Linked DNA regions of Homo sapiens: regions 1 and 2 are each linked to region 3. The links come from fine-mapping of genetic effects on gene expression. A gene starts in region 3. Each other region holds a variant in brackets. All regions are shown on one strand. Distances are between the middles of the regions.

Region 1 (5,227 bases), 61 kb after region 3:
AAAAAGGAAGGATTCCTTTTTAGGCTGTAGCAAACAAAAACAAACACAGTTTGAGGAGATTTGGGAGGTTTTATACCTTAATGTTTAAACCTGGCTGCCAGAGGAATGTAAATAGAAGACTGTCTTTTTCTATCTTGTTATCCTCCAGGAGAATTAACTTTTCCAACCAGAAATCAACATCCTGAAGGGCCAGGATCAGAGGCCATCAAAGGTTTATTACCAGCCAGATTATTATCAAGGAGCAGAGACAATAATTATTACATTGTTGACAAACAGATACATTTTTGCTTTCTGGTCCCTTCATGTTGTACTCAGGATTAGTATTTTTAGGAAGATTAGAGAATACTTTGCAGAATACCTTAAGTGATAAAAAGTCACTAGGGAGTATATTTGCAGCTCAGCATGTGGGACCAAAGAAGTTCAGCTCATTGCCTGATCTAAAAATAATCATCCTTGATGTAGAATCCTGTTAGGTTCAGAAATGTAACATATAAGCTAAAATATTTCTACCTATCTCAGAAGTCCCAATTATACAAATTTATATCTGCAGATCTCATAGTCTAAAATCTGATGCATCTCTCTCCAGCTCTCTCCATGTACTTTGAATAAAGAATATATATATTCTCTGAATCTCTAGATCTCCTTCTCAAAATCTAATCACAACAAATTAGCTGTTTCTTTTAGCTTCCCATCAAGAATGGCTTGGCACAGTGGCTCATGCCCATAAGCCCAGCACTTTGAGAGGCTGAGACAGGAGGATCAATTGAGGTCAGGAGTTCAAGACCAGCCTGGACAACAGAGCAAGACTCTATCTCTACAAATTTTTTTTTTAAATTAGCCAGGAGTAGTGGTCCTACTTGGGAGGCTGAGGCAGGAGGATCACTTGGGCCTAGGAGTTAAAGGTTACAGTGAGCTATGATCTCCCCACTGCACTCCAGCCCAGGTGACAGGGTGAAACTCTGTCTCTAAAAAAAAAAAATTTTAATAAAAAAAGCTGGGCACGGTGGCTCACGCCTGTAATCCAAGCACTTTGGGAGGCTGAGGCGGGTGGATCACCTGAGGTCAGAAGTTCAAGACCAGCCTGGTCAACATGGTGAAACCCCATCTCTACTAAATATGCAAAAATTAGCCAGGCATGGTGGCGGGCACCTGTAATCTCAGCTACTCGGAAGGCTGAGGTAGGAGAATCTCTTGAACCCAGGAGAGAGAGGTTGCAGTGAGCCAAGATCGCACCATTGCACTCCAGCCTGGGCAACAAGAGCGAAACTTCATCTCAAAAAAAAAAGAGTCTGGGTGCAGTGGCTCACGCCTGTAATCCCAGCACTTTGGGAGGGTGAGGTGGGCGGGTCACCTGAGATCAGGAGTTTGAGACCAGCCTGGCCAACATGGTGAAACCCTGTCTCTAGTAAAAATACAAAAATTAGCCAGGCATGGTGGTACGCACCTGTAATCCCAGCTACTCGGGAGGCTGAGGCAGAAGAATTGCTTGAACCTGGGAGATGGCGGTTTCAGTGAGCCAAGATCTTGCCACTGCACTTCAGCCTGGGTGATGGAGCAAGACTGCATCTCAAAAAAAAAAGAAAAAAAAAAAAAGAATGGTTTGCTTCTAATTTCATAAAAGTTTTTCTTTGCCTTTTGATAACAACTATAATATTTCATGAATAAATGTATTTTTATTACTAACTTGGGGAAAAATCTTGGAAAATCTTGTTCATATAAATTGGGGTTAATGTTTCAGGAAAAAAAATAGAATCTTAAATTTTTCAAACTGGAAAAGACCTTAAAAGATTCTCTATCAAAACCCCATTCCACCCCCACCCCACCAACTACCTTTTTTTTTTAACTATTTGAGGCCAAATAAATTAGCTTCTCAAATTCATGAAAGGCATAAAGTTAGAGATTTTAATGCTGTTCTTAGAAACTACAGCCTAATCTTTGCCCTTTTGCCAAAAGAAGAAGGAGGAGGAGGAGGGGGAAGGAGAAGGAGGGAAGAGGAGGTAAGAGGAAGAAGAGGAAGGAAGAGGAAGAAGAGGAAAAGGAGGAAGAGGAGGAAGAAGAAGAAGAGGAGGAAGAGGAAGAAGGAGAAGGAGAAGAAGAAAGAAGAATGAGGAGGAGGAGGAAGAAGAAAGAAG[AAGG/G]AGGAGGAGGAGGAAGAAGAAGAAGAAAGAAGAAGAAGAAGAAGAAGAAGAAACTACTACACTACTGCTACTACTGCCGCTACCACCACATTTTTTCTGTCTGAATTTGAAAAGACATTTAAAAGTCAATTATATTTTTTGGTTCAACTACTTGATACCAAAAGAATTTGGTCATATGTCTTAACAGCACACATATATATATCTTAAAGAGTGTGTGTGTGTGAATCTATATCTACATATAGCACTTTGTGGCCACATTGAAACACTTATCAAACTACATTACAGCTATTTGTGAATTGTCTATTCACCTGACACAATAGTAGCACCTGGAAATTAGAAACCATATGTTTTTTCCTTACCTTGTGCATTTTTCCACTTTTGAAACTATGAACTATTTCAAAATATTCTCAAAAATAGAGAATAAAAAATAAAAACATAGAGAATAATGTAACAAAGACTTATCATCCAGCATTACCAAATCTTAACATTTTGTTACATTTATTGCATTTTTTAAAAATGAAACACTAGAAATACTGTTGAAACCTTCCAAATTCATTTTCTTCCTTCCCTTCTCAGAGATAATCACTACTATCCAGGATTTGGTGTTATGTCATTCCCATGCATGTTTTTACAGTCTTATCACATATGTATGTATCCATATATTAATATATATGCATTTTATTGTTTTGCATATGCTTTAAAACTATTTTAGTAGTGGCATACCCTGAATATTCTTAAATTTGCTAAATTTTCTTAACTTACTCTGAGCTTTAAGGCTTATCCATGTTGGTAATAATCATTCATGTATTCATTCAAACTGCTATATAGCATTCTATAGTATGAACACATCCCTGGTGAATATGTAGGTAGTTTTCATTTTTCACTATTATAAACAATGCTGTAATGAATATTCTTCTAGATATCTCTGTGCACATGTGCAAGGGTTTCTTTGGGATATTGTTGAAGAAGTAGAATTGCTATACATACTGATAAATTGAAAATGAATTACTTGATATTGACAAATTGCATTCTAAAATGGTTGTCTGATTTTTACTCCCACTCATATTTAAGTCCCCATGTGATCTAGTCCATTTTTTAAATTTTGGCTAATCCGATGGGCGAGGATGACATCTTATTCTTTTGACTTAAATTGTCCTGATTATTAGTTATATTGAACATCTATTCATATGTTCATGGACCCTATTGGATTTCCTCTTCTGTCAACTGCCTGTTTTTATTCTTCACCAATTTCTCTCTAAGGTTGATCAGTAGTCTTTCTCTATATACTGTGCATATACTAATTATTTGTTGGTTGTATACATTGCAAATATTTTCTCCCAGTGAGACCTTGTCCTTTTCATTTCCACCAACCAGTAAACTACCTAGAACCTAAAATATAGAAAAGAGTGCAGAAGAAAAAAATTTTTTGAGACGGGTTTTTTGTTTTTTGTTTGTTTTTGTCGCCCAGACTGGAGCCCTGTGGCATGATCACAGCTCACTGCAGCCTCAATCCCCCAGGCTCAAGTGATCCTCCCACCTCAGCCTCTTGGGTAGCTGGGACTACAGGTGCACACCACAACAACACCTGGCTAATTTTTTGAAATTTTTGTAGAGAGGGGTTTCACCATGTTGCCCAGGCTGCTCTTGAATTCCTGAGCTCAAGCAGTCTACCTGCCTCGGCTTCCCAAAGTGTTGGGATTGCAGGTGTGAGCCACCATGCACGGCCAAAAATTTTTAAAGATACAAAGGGAGAGGGAGAAAAAGGGAAAGAGCAATTTCACACATCATTCTCACCAAGGTATAGCCATTTGACGAAGTTTTTATGGTAGACTTGACAGGACTAATCATCAAATTATTTTCATTGAAAACATCTGTTTTGAATTTATTTATTGATTTATTGATGTATTAAATTTTTTACCATCATAACATCAGGGCATTCTGTGTTGCTAGTGGTGGTACTGACGATGATGCTGGCTTTTTATTTTATACATTGTTATTTTGGTCCATCTGAGCAACTATTTTTTAACCAAAAGAAGTTATTTTTTTTTCTTTTGCCCACTTTTTTGGCAAGTCACTATAGTTGAAAAAGCCTCATATCTAAGTTAATAAATGTTATAAGTTAATAAATGTTACCTTATGATCTCTTAAGACTGTTCTATTGCCGTTTTTTCTTTATCCTCATCCCCAACTTCTGTTCAATAGAAGGCACAATTAATTATATAAAAGATACATAGAGTCTGCATTTGCTTTCCTTAGGCATAGGAATTACACTGGCTATTTCCATACAGGCAGTATTCTCCTAGACCTTCTCTATAGATGCCAATTAGAAGATTAGCGTCTTTTCTCTCTCCCTCTTTGCTATTAAATAGTCACACAAAAGCTGAGCTGACAAATTACTCCGTCCATGGTGCTCGACAAAGACAGACAATAGATCATCATCATTTACTATACTTGAATCCTATTAATCACAGATTAATGAGAACATGTCTAGTGGGGAAGAAATTACCAGAATGTGGGCCTATTGGCTTGTTACTCATGTAACATCTGCTCAGGCTTTACCTTTAGTGTCATGTCATCTTTTATCACATTGAAATAATGTTTGCTCCAGAAACATAATTAAGATAATGGAGCAAATTCAGAGCCCTTCCCTTAATAATTAAAGAACCACGGTTGTATTTCTTAGTTCAGTGGCTTTTAAAAAAAACTAATTTCCCTCTGTTCTTGATTATTTCCTTTTTCTTTTGCTCATAATGAACTATCAAATCTTGGGGCTTTTTTTTCTCTTTGTAAACTATGATTAATCCTCATACCCAAAACTAGGACAAAGTCAGAGTTTGAGTTCCTTTTTCTATTGAGATAAAATTCATATGATATGAAATTCACCATTGTAACCACATTAAAATGCACAATTAAGTGGGATTCCTTTTACAATTTGAAACATCCTAAACTCAGATTAATACTTAGAATATCATATACACTTTGTAAGGATCATCAAGTACTATATTTATTTTCCTTAACCTTCATCTACAATGTACTGTTTTATTTTTATATAATCAAATACTTTTATTTTTAAAATCTGGGGTTTTACCAAT
Region 2 (5,227 bases), 110 kb after region 3:
TGCCTGTGACCCCGGGTGGTCACTCATGCTGCTCCATTTTTACTTTCGGTGGTCTCAGGAAGGTCCGATTTTTCTTCTCTTTCTTCCCCTTTGTATTGACTTGGAAGTTTCGCCAGCTGTCCACACGACCATCTCGACCTTCCTCAAAGTTTTTCTGCCACTCTCTTTCTCGTTTGGCTTTTTCTTGAGCTTCAATCTCTTCTTCCCTTTGCCGTTTCCTTTCATGCATCTCTTTGGCTTCTCTCTCTTTCCTTTTAATTTCCAGCTGAGCAAAGAGTTTCATTTTCTGTTTATATACAGCTTGTTTGAACAGCTCAGGATCATCCTCCTCTACAATCGTAGGTTTTCCTTCCTTCTTTGATTGTTTTTTTTTTTTCTCTCTTTCACAGTGTGTTCCACGTATTCTTTTCCTGCCTAAATTACATCCAGGACCCTCTTCTTTTGCTCCTGATCAGTAGCAACTTGTAAGCTTTGTCCACAGTTTCAAAAGCCTTTTGTGCTCTGTCAGCATCATCTTCATTTTTGTCAGGATGCACCAAGATGGATAACTGCCGAAACCTCTTTTTTATTTCTTCATCTGTAACTTCAGGATCTATCTGAAGAAACTCAAATGGGTTCAAATTGAAGTAAGAGGAACCAGGACGGGTCAGTCTTTCAATGTGGTTTTTGGATGTTAGAACCAAGTCTCCCTTCTCTATTTGTTTCCCCTGAAGACAAGGCCCGGGAGAACAAGCACCAGGCAGTCCCAGGAAAACATTCTTGGTGTCACTGTCAGGGTTGGAATGAATATGAGGTATGCTGTATGCCATCTTTATTCCTCACTGTAGGAGGTCATAAATGCTTCCTCTGTGCCGCCTCCGCCGCCCAAAGTCCCGCTCTCTCCTGAAGCCGCCATTTCCCCACAACTTTTTTAAAAAGTTAAAATCTATGGGCAGAAACTATATTTAAGAGTGTAAATTGGCCGGGCGCAGTGGCTCACGCCTGTAATCCCAGCACTTTGGGAGGCCGAGGCGGGCGGATCACAAGGTCAGGAGATCGAGACCAACCTGGCTAACACAGTGAAATCCCGTCTCTACTAAAATACAAAAAAATTAGCCGGGCGTAGTGGCGGGCGCCTGTAGTCCCAGCTACTTGGAAGGCTGAGGCAGGAGAATGGCGTGAACCCGGGAGGCGGAGGCTGCACTGAGCTGAGATTGTACCACGGCACCCCAGCTTGGGCAACAGAGTGAGACTTCATCTCAAAAAAAATAAAATAAAGTAAAACAAAATGTCTTCAAGGGCTGCCTGTATGGACAGATGAGATGTTACTTCAGCTTAATAAATTAATATTCAATGTATTAAAGTAACAAAAACATTACTTAAGCTTTTTTAAAAATAGAGTGTAAATTAGCACAATCACTTTAAAGACAATTTGTCTAAATCTCATAAATTTGTAAATACACATATCCTATAACCCAGCAATTCTATAAAATTATAGCTAGAACAGTAATTCTCAAACTTTAGTGTGCGTCAGAATCACTGGAGAACTTATTAAAGTAGTTTGGTAGGCCCCACCCCACCCCACCCCCGTTTCTGATTCAGTAAGCATGGGTTAAAGCCCAAAAATTTACATTTCTAACAAATCCCAGGTCATACTGATGCTGCTGGTTCATGCATCACACTTTGAGTATCACTGCCCTGAAGAAACCATCATGGATGTGCCTAAGGGGACACATACAGAAAATATTCACCATAGTATTGTCTATCACAAGTAAGGAAATGGATGAATAAATGTAGAATATAGCAATGAAGTTACGTGAAGGAACAACATGAATCCATATGAGTAAATCTCAAATCATAATGGTGAATGGAAAAGTAATTTGCAAAAGGATACATTTAAGATACCATTTATGTAAGACTTAATAGTATTAATATCCATTATTTACAGATACATTCATATGTACCAAAAGTATGAAAATATAGGAAGAATACATATTGGCAAAGGAGTCAGGGAATTGAGATTGCAAAGAGCTTCAAAAGGGGCTTCAATTGTATCTATAACATTGTGTTTTGTTAAAACTGACCTAAAGCTCACCTCTTTCCAATGCCCTGCCCTACCCTCCTACCCTGGAAAAGGTAGTCAGTAGAAAAGTAGACATCCTGTCTAGAGAAAAGCTGCAGAGGATGGTAGAATGGGAACATCCCTCTCTGCACAAAAATAATGCAGGAATAAAGATGATCTATTTCACTATTTTTTTTCCTGATCTTCCAAGAAAACTTGAACATTATTATCTGCCTATATTGTCAAAAGAAAAGAAAAAGGATAAGGATAGTGTTTTGCTTTTGTTTTGTTTTGCTTTGTTTGGGACAGGGTCTTGCTCTGTTGCCCAGGCTGGAGTGAAGTGGCATGACCATGGCTCACTGCAGCCATAGTGCCTTTCTTTAGAGAACGGATACATTTTACCATCATAGTGCATGAGAGGCACAGTAGGAGTCACAAAATCATCAATAATAACACTAACTGACATTTGGATAGTACCCCATTTTCAAGCTGTTTCTCTGTAGAACACAGAAAGACACAGTTATATAAAGTAAAAGAAATGCAGCATACCCTGATAATGACTTGGTCCCTGACCCCCAAAACCAAAAATTTCCTTCTTCCTATGAATGTATATAACAAATTATCTTGAAATTGACTGTGCTAATTTACACTCCTAAATATCATTTCAAAGTCTTGGCCGGGCACATTGGCTCAAGCCTGTAATCCCCACACTTTAGGAGGCCAAGCCAGGCAGATCACCTGAGGTCAGGAGTTTGAGACCAGCTTGGCCAACACAATGAAACCCCGTCTCTACTAAAAATACAAAATTAGCTGGGCATGGTGGCACATGCCTATAATCCCACCTACTCACTCAGGAGGCTGAGGCAGGAGAATCGCTTGAACCCGGGAGGCGGAGGTTGCAGTGACTGCGCCATTATGCTCCAGCCTGGGCAATAAGAGCAAAACTCCATCTCAAAAA[A/T]AAAAAAAGCACCAAAGTCTACAGCTTAACTCTTTTTTTAGGTAACTTGTCATAGAGATGCTTTGCATCTTAATGTACTTTAATATTTGTCCTTACATTTTGTGCATTTGGTCTTGTTTATGTTCAGATGTCATAATTTCCTATGTTGTCTTCCAACAACTTCCTCTGAACCAAGTCTTGGCTCAATTCTTTCCTTCCTATGATCTCAGCTCCCCAGAAACTTCTAAAACTATCACCTCCACACAGAGGCCTTCCTGACTATATGTTCCAAAATAGCATCTCCAGTCTCTCTCCAGTTCCTTTCCCTGTTTTACACTTGTATATAGTATTTATCACTCTCTGACGTTCCCTTACATATTACCTTGTTTATTGTCTTTCACTCTATCTAGAATATAAGCTTCATAACACAGAGACTTGTTCCTGGGTGGGTCTAGGGTCAACAACAATGCATGGCCAATAGTAGGAGCCCAATAAATATTTGCTAGATGAATGAATGAATCTGCCTTTCTGTCTCTGTTCTTCTTTCTTCCTATTAATATTCTCTCCACTAATCGTGTACATCCTTCAGTGGCTGGTGCACTGCCAATGTACCAAGATATTTCAGTCTTTTGTTTTTAGTTCAATCCCACATTTCCACTGTATAAAAGGCTGCCCCTATGTCTCACACTTTCCGTTAACAGCATTTTATTTTCTACAAAGTAAAAAACTCAAAATTTGGTTCCCTTTGCTGCCAACTCTTACCACATATTCTCCCCAAATTTTTCAGCCTTTTGTCACTGTTTATCATTCTTAATATAACTCAGAATAACCCACCTTAAGTTTGAAGTGAGCATTGCCATTTACAAAGTATTTTACCACCAATGATCTTAACTCCTAAAACCTTACAAAACTGGGTATTTATCTAAAGAAATGAAGCTTATGGGCTGGGCACAGTGGCTCACGCCTGTAATCTCAGCACTTTGGGAGGCTGAGGTGGGTGGATCACAAGGTCAGGAGTTCAAGATCAGCCTGACCAAAATGGTGAAACCCCATCTCTACTAAAAATACAAAAAAATTAGCTGGGCGTGGTGGTGGGCACCTGTAATCCCAGCTACTCAGCAGGCTGAGGCAGAGAATTGCTTGAACCTGGGAGGGGGAGGTTGCAGTGAGCTGAGATGGCACCACTACACTCCAGCCTGGGTGACAGAGCAAAACTCAGTCTCAAAAAAAAAAAAAAAAAAGAAAGAAATGAAATGAAATGAAGCTTATATTCACACAAAAACCTGTACATGAATGTTTATAGCAGTTTCATTTGTAAGAGCCCAAAACTGTAAACAAATATTCTTCAACAGGTGAATGGATAAACTGGTACCCCCATATAATGGTGCACTACTCATTAATAAGAAGGAACAAACTATTAACACATATAGCAACGTGGATAGATTTCAAAGGCATTACACTGAGTGAATTGGCTTGAAAAAAAGGCAATCTCAAAAGTTGAAATATAAATCCATTTATGTAACATTCTCAAAATGACAAAATTATAATGATGGCGAGCAGATCAGTCAGTGCCAGGGCTTAGGGACAGGGGACAGTGTGACTGTGAGGGGTAATACAAGGAGTTTCTTTGTGGTGACAGCACAATTCTGTATCCTGATCATGGTAATGGTTACACAACCCTATACATATGAAAAAATTTCATAGAACTTGTATACTGAAAAAAAAAGTATGTGTAAGAACTGTGAAATCTGAATAAGATCTGTAGTTATGGTTAACATTGTACCAGCATCAGTTTGCTGGTTTTGATAATATTAGCACTGAAGAAAGATGAGTGAAGGACATAGGGGAACTCTCTATACTATTTTGCAACTTCTTATGAACATAAATTTTTTTAAAATAAAAAATTTAAATGATGTATAATTATAGGAATTATATATAGAATGTGAAAACTGACACTTTTAATTAGAACTATCAAGTAAAAAATTTACATTGCGGAGATTCTCAATTGCAAACATTAGCACCATTTTCTTTCTTTTTTTTTTTTGAGATGGAGTCTTACTCTGTTGCCCAGGCTGGAGTGCAGTGGCACAATCTCATCTCACTGCTGCCTCTGCCTCCCAGCTTCAAGCGATTCTCCGGCCTCAGCCTCCTGAGTAGCTGGGAATACAGGCACCCTCCACCACACCCAGCTAATTTTTGTATTTTTAGTAGAGACAGTGTTTCGCCATGTTGGCCACACTAGTCTTGAA
Region 3 (5,227 bases):
TGAAATAATGAAATTAATTAGCACCATTAAAATACTTCTTTTCATCTTCAGGTAACACTGTTCACTAGCTTGAAATATATATATATATATATTTAAAATATGTTTTCGGTTGACATTTCTTGGGGGGGATGTCTTTTTTAGATTCAAAGACTAGTGCATATTCCTTGCTTTTTGCAGCTCAGTCTTTGCAGCCATACTTCAAAGGAAAATTTTTCATTGCATTCCTGCACCATCACATTCATTTGCAAAATATTTCCGTCTTTGTATTCTGTCCAAATGGGTCACTAACATTCTAAAACAGGATACCGACATTGGGGAGATAAGAAATGTGGCTTTGAAAATAGGCTGTGTTCAACAGGATTCTTAAGACAAACACAGAACACAACAAAAGCACAGTCTATGTACATTTATTTGGTGGTAAGCATCTTACAAATACGGGCTTTCTGTCAGGCAGTGCTCAGCCAATGTCCCAAACTGGCTAGTAGGGAATTAGTACACAATGTACACTGAAATGGTTTTTTAAAAAAATCAAAAACAAGTTGCCGCTGAAAAGAAAATACTGAATATTGAGCAAATTGCCATTCAGTTCCTTAGTGGATTACAGGTGTTAACATCTTCCTTAAGCTGTACATATTTTCATAATGAATACACAGTATGACATTTACAGCAGAAGCATTAAACAATTTGGGTGAAACCCCATTAAAACAGTCAAACTTGAGGAAACGACTTCTGTATTTCCAAAAAGCCATTTAAAGAAAGGTTTGAAGTAGCTCTTCCTGAATACTGCCCACAAAATAGCTGAGGGTGAGAATTTTAGGGGGTGTCTCAACTCCAGTAAAGTAGCATCCTCCCCACCTCCAAACACCAACTTAAGAATGGACATGTACATATAATTGGGCAAAGGAAAGTTTACAGGGGAGATCCCCATGCACCCCAAAAGCAGCAAAAATCCTCTTACATTTTCTGCCAGGTCTTGAATCTCCTTAAGTTTGACACCAATCACATAACTTTTAATTCACAGAATATACAGTGCAAAATATCTGACCCTATTGAGACAGAAGCTGTATAGGCGCCTGTGATGACAAGACAAAAAAAACATTGGCTACCAAAGGGTAGCCAGAATCCTTTGTGGACATTGAGACATGCACGCATTCACCGCGACTTTCCATAGGAATTACAAATCATATAGGATTCGTTAGGGTCTCCAGAGTTTTAAGGGGAAAAATCCTATTTTAGTGGGGAAAGTGAGAAGGATTTAAAGCTGACAGTCTTTGATCTCAAGGTTTATACCATATACATACCTGCTCTAGAGAGGGATATTACATTTCACTGTCCGCTCCTCTGGTGGAACATTGACTACAGGGAGAATTTTAGGGGATTAAAACATAGGAAGGAATGAAAGTAAACTTGCAAGTTGAAGAAAGCCCCACAGAAATTCCCATGATCTGTTTCCTCTAAGGCCAACCTCGAAATCATCCTGGTCTCTCGTCCCTCAGCAGCCAGGCCGCAGTGGCATCTGCAGCAGCAGCACTTGCCGGCTTTCTGAGGGGTGGCACTTATTGATGTGCCGGGTCAGCCCTGGAGAGCTAAAAAAAGTGGACGGGCAGTGCTTGCACGAGAAAATTTGCTGGGCACTCCCGTCAGATGGCCCGCTAGGGCCCGACGTTTCGGGAGGAGCCCCCGCCAGAGCGGGCAGGAGCAGCTCCTCGCGGACAGCATGCCACAGCCGGTGCTTCTCCCTGATATCTGCTGTAGGGAAGTGCGCTCCGCACAATGGGCAAGCGAAGGCAAGTGGGGCACCGCGTTCGGAGCCAAAGCCCGGCGCTAGCGCACGGGCCGAGCCCGCCTCGTGAGTGCTCAGGTGCTTGCGCAGATAGGCTTGGCGACGAAACTTTTTGTGGCAATATGGGCACACGAAAATCTCGGATCCCCTGCCACCACTGGTACTGCCCGGCACAGGTACCCGGCGCCCCAACACCCCCTCCGTGTAGGGGCCCTGAGGCAGCGGTGGCTCTGGATGCGTCAGCACCTGGAGGCCCTGCCTCGGGGCGCTGTCCGGGTGCTGATCCGCCCCGGAGCTGTCCCTGGCCTGCGGGTGCTGATCCGCAGTCCGCTCTATTCGGCTGTTCTCCTTTCCCTCCGCCAGAAAAGATGCAATGGCCCCGGAGTCCCGGGAGGACGAAGACGACGAAGAAGGCGGCTTCCCGTCGGCGGAGGAGACTGTGGCGGCGTTTGCAGCCGCAGGACGCGGCTTATGCCAGCGGCGATGGGAGGCCAGGTTCGCAGGACAGCTGAACACCTTGTCGCACTCAGGGCAGCGGTACTCTACGCGCACGATGCGGGAGCAGCGGTGCTGGGCCAGCGCGAAGGGGTCTGCGTACTGCTCCTTGCACAGCTGGCAGATGAACTCCCCCAGTGGCGTGCGGCTGCCCCCCAAGCCCCGGGACGGCGCTCCGGGCTCCTCCTCCTTGATCTTCAGGCCCAGGACAGGGGATGTGGTCACCTCATCGGCAAAGCTCAACTTCCTCATGGCCTTTGGCTTCTTGATTCCCGCGGCCGCGGGTCCAGACGCGCAGTCCGTGGGTGCCTTGCCGCGGCGCTCGCCGCCGGCCGCCCGCTTCAGACTCTGAAGGGCGGCCGAGAGGGGCGCAGGGTCCGGCTGAAGCGCGGGCTCTGGGAACGGCGCCCGAAGCGGCAGCAGAAACTGCTCCCCCGGGGTCGGTGCGGCTGCTGGCGCCACGGAGCAGGAGAAAGCGGCCACGGCGGCGGCGCCCCCGGGGAAAGACTCGGCGGAGACGGGCGAGCTGAGGCAGCGCTCCAGGAACGCCCGACGCAGCTCTGCGCCTGCCGGCTTCGCTGGACTGGGGCTGGGGCTGGGGCTGGGCCCGGGACCTTCCCTGCCACCCGCCCGCCACTCCGCGCCTTCCCGCCCGCCCGTCCCCGGGCTCACCCCAGCCGCCCGACATGGCGACCCCGACTGTTCCCGGGCCGCCTCCGCCGTCAACCCCTTTCCTGGTTCCTCTCGGGTGGGGGGTGTCGCCCGCTCCGCGCCGGGCAAGGAGGCGCTGGGAGCCTCCTCCAAGAAGGGCGGCGCCCCCTGGGGCCCCAGCAGAGGGAAGACACGCTCCGCAAGGCGAACTCGGTACAAGCCGCCTGTCCGTTTAGTTCGCTTCACCAGGAATCCCCTTGGCATGGTGGAGTCGAGAGCGCTCTGGGACAAGAGGAAAGGGGGCGCCACGGGGACTGAGAGCCGGCCAGCAGATGAACTAGAAGAGCTTCGCCGCGGCTGTCATGCCGGGGCTATCTTTATAGCTGAGACGCGGGCCGGGGTCCCGCCGGGCCTCCCCGGGCTGGCCCGGCCAATCAGGAGTGGGAGCGGGCGCCGGGGGCGGGGCTTTCTCCCGTGCCGATTCACTGGAGTAGACGAATCTGGCGGCGGCGGCGGCGCACGCCCAGCCCCGCCTCACAGCGCCGCGAACCTGCCCCTGTGGCCGGCTGGGTCCGCCTCCCCCTGCAGCCTCCCGGGCGAAGACGCCAGAAGGTAAGGTCCAGAGTGTGAGGGAGCTCGACACTCCCCGCCTTGGCTGCCTCCGCGGAGCGTCCCACTGGGGAGCCGGGCGAAAAGGCCACCTCACGACGCCCTCCGCTCGGGCCGGGACCCGGCTGCCCCCAACGCGAGGGCGTCTGGCTGAAAAGCTCCCGCTCTGCGCCGGACGGCCGAGCGGAAGGGGCGGTGGGCAGAAGGTGCGGCGGAGACCACGGGGTGGGTGTCCGGGAGGGAACCGGTGCACGTCCTCTGCGGGTATTGAGCTGATGAGAAGTGCGACCGAGCGGCCGGACAGCTGACTGCACCGCCCTGTGGCTGCTGTCGGCGGCGGGAGCACGTCCGCCCGCCGGTATCGATCGGGCCCGCGCGCGGCGGCGACACTCGAGAGTTCATCTCCGCAGAAGGGCTCTCAGCGCGGGAGAGCGTGCCTGCCCGCCGCCAGCCTCCGAGTCGGGACGCCCGAGCGCGGCTGGGTCCTGGGCGTCTGCGCTCTTAAGTGCTTCTCGATAGGAGCAGGAGTAGGGAGAGGAAAGGAGGATCTCATTTTCCACTGTCCTCGCATAAAGTGGTTTCTCTGTTCACACTTTCCACTTGTACTACCCAGAGTATGACTTAATTCCTAACCGGCCTGTTTAGCATGGAGTAGATTGAGTGAGAAATGCCGGCGGAATCAGCATTACAGCTGCTTCCCCGTACACCACAAGTGATACTTTGCAAAAGGTGTGCTGTAGAGCAAACTCAACAGATTTTCATCTGGCACCCTGCAATGCTCCCACCACTATTTTGAGAACTAGAAGAGGTTTGAAAGTGTTTAGTAGTAATTGAACTAGGCAACAATTAGACCATCTATGACAGATATAAAGTGCCAAGATCCATAATATAGGTAAATAAAGTGTGAGAACAGGAAGGGGAAAGACTATGTGCACAAGTCTCCTTACTAAACCAAATTGGAGAAAAAGACTGACAGAGGTGTTTTAAAAGTACACGATAGCATAACAGATGTAGTCATCAATAAAACACATTGTCTTTCTTCAGTGAAGTATTTTTACAGGGAGAACATTATTTTGAGAAAGATTTGGAAGTAATTATATATTAATCATTGACTATGTTATAGGCATTCTGCTTAAGTAATCTCTAATCTTCATACACACGCACACAACATGTACACACACAAACCAAAAAGGAGATATTATTTCTCTCTTTTTTCAATGTGGTGATTGAGCCATTTAGTTAGATAATGGGTAAAAGCCAAGCAGAGCTCAGATTCAAACTTGTTCTGGCTAATTCCAAAGCCCAGACTCTTTCCACTACACCAATGGCTTCAAACTATTTTTTTCCTTAATCACATCCCACAATAATAAATGTGTTCTATAGTATATACACACATGTAACTGAAACAAAAGTCTCACAAAATAATACTGTGGGTCCTAATCTATTTGTAAATTATGAAATCATACATTGAAATGTTTGCAGTGCATTCTCATATTTTTCATTGTATTGTATTTTGTTTCTTAAAAATAGCAGTCATAGAAAATACATTGATTTCATAATTTACAAATGGATTAGGACCCACAGTTTGAAAAACACTCATTATATTGTCTCATTAAATAGCATGAAATGATACAAAATTAAATAAACCTGATACTGCATAATCACAATATCTGAACCACTGTTTAAAAT

Alleles and levels. Positions count from the first base shown, and alleles are read on the strand shown. Sizes are in standard deviations (SD) of each study's normalised expression. Not every link is listed here.
With allele AAGG in place of G in region 1, the expression in prefrontal cortex of the gene that starts at base 3,282 in region 3 is lower (small effect, 0.32 SD a copy in CommonMind).

What was found. PIP is the estimated chance that this variant, and not a neighbour inherited with it, causes the effect.
Region 1: its variant is the best candidate, but not a certain one, in a credible set for the expression of INSM2 in prefrontal cortex (CommonMind, PIP 0.75).
Region 2: its variant is the best candidate, but not a certain one, in a credible set for the expression of INSM2 in lung (TOPMed, PIP 0.72).

What each region holds. Positions count from the first base shown.
Region 1 is chr14:35,471,347-35,476,573 of GRCh38, reverse strand. It overlaps LOC107984681 (a long non-coding RNA gene), which reads right to left and starts at 1,566. Exons shown (of 2, transcript XR_001750713.2): 1 at 1,445-1,566. LOC105370450 (a long non-coding RNA gene) reads left to right here. Exons shown (of 3, transcript XR_943749.3): 3 at 149-652. The variant AAGG/G (reference allele first, on the strand shown) is at 2,133.
Region 2 is chr14:35,425,424-35,430,650 of GRCh38, reverse strand. It overlaps the pseudogene DNAJC8P1. Among named protein-coding and RNA genes, the nearest start is that of NFKBIA, 23 kb to the right of the region's middle. The variant A/T (reference allele first, on the strand shown) is at 3,000.
Region 3 is chr14:35,532,219-35,537,445 of GRCh38, reverse strand. It overlaps INSM2 (INSM transcriptional repressor 2), which reads right to left and starts at 3,282. Exons shown (of 1, transcript NM_032594.4): 1 at 392-3,282. The coding sequence starts at 3,193. The coding sequence ends at 1,493. RefSeq lists enhancers at 1,193-2,015, 2,186-2,335, 2,016-2,839, 2,840-3,663, 3,664-4,488 and silencers at 3,296-3,665, 3,766-3,845.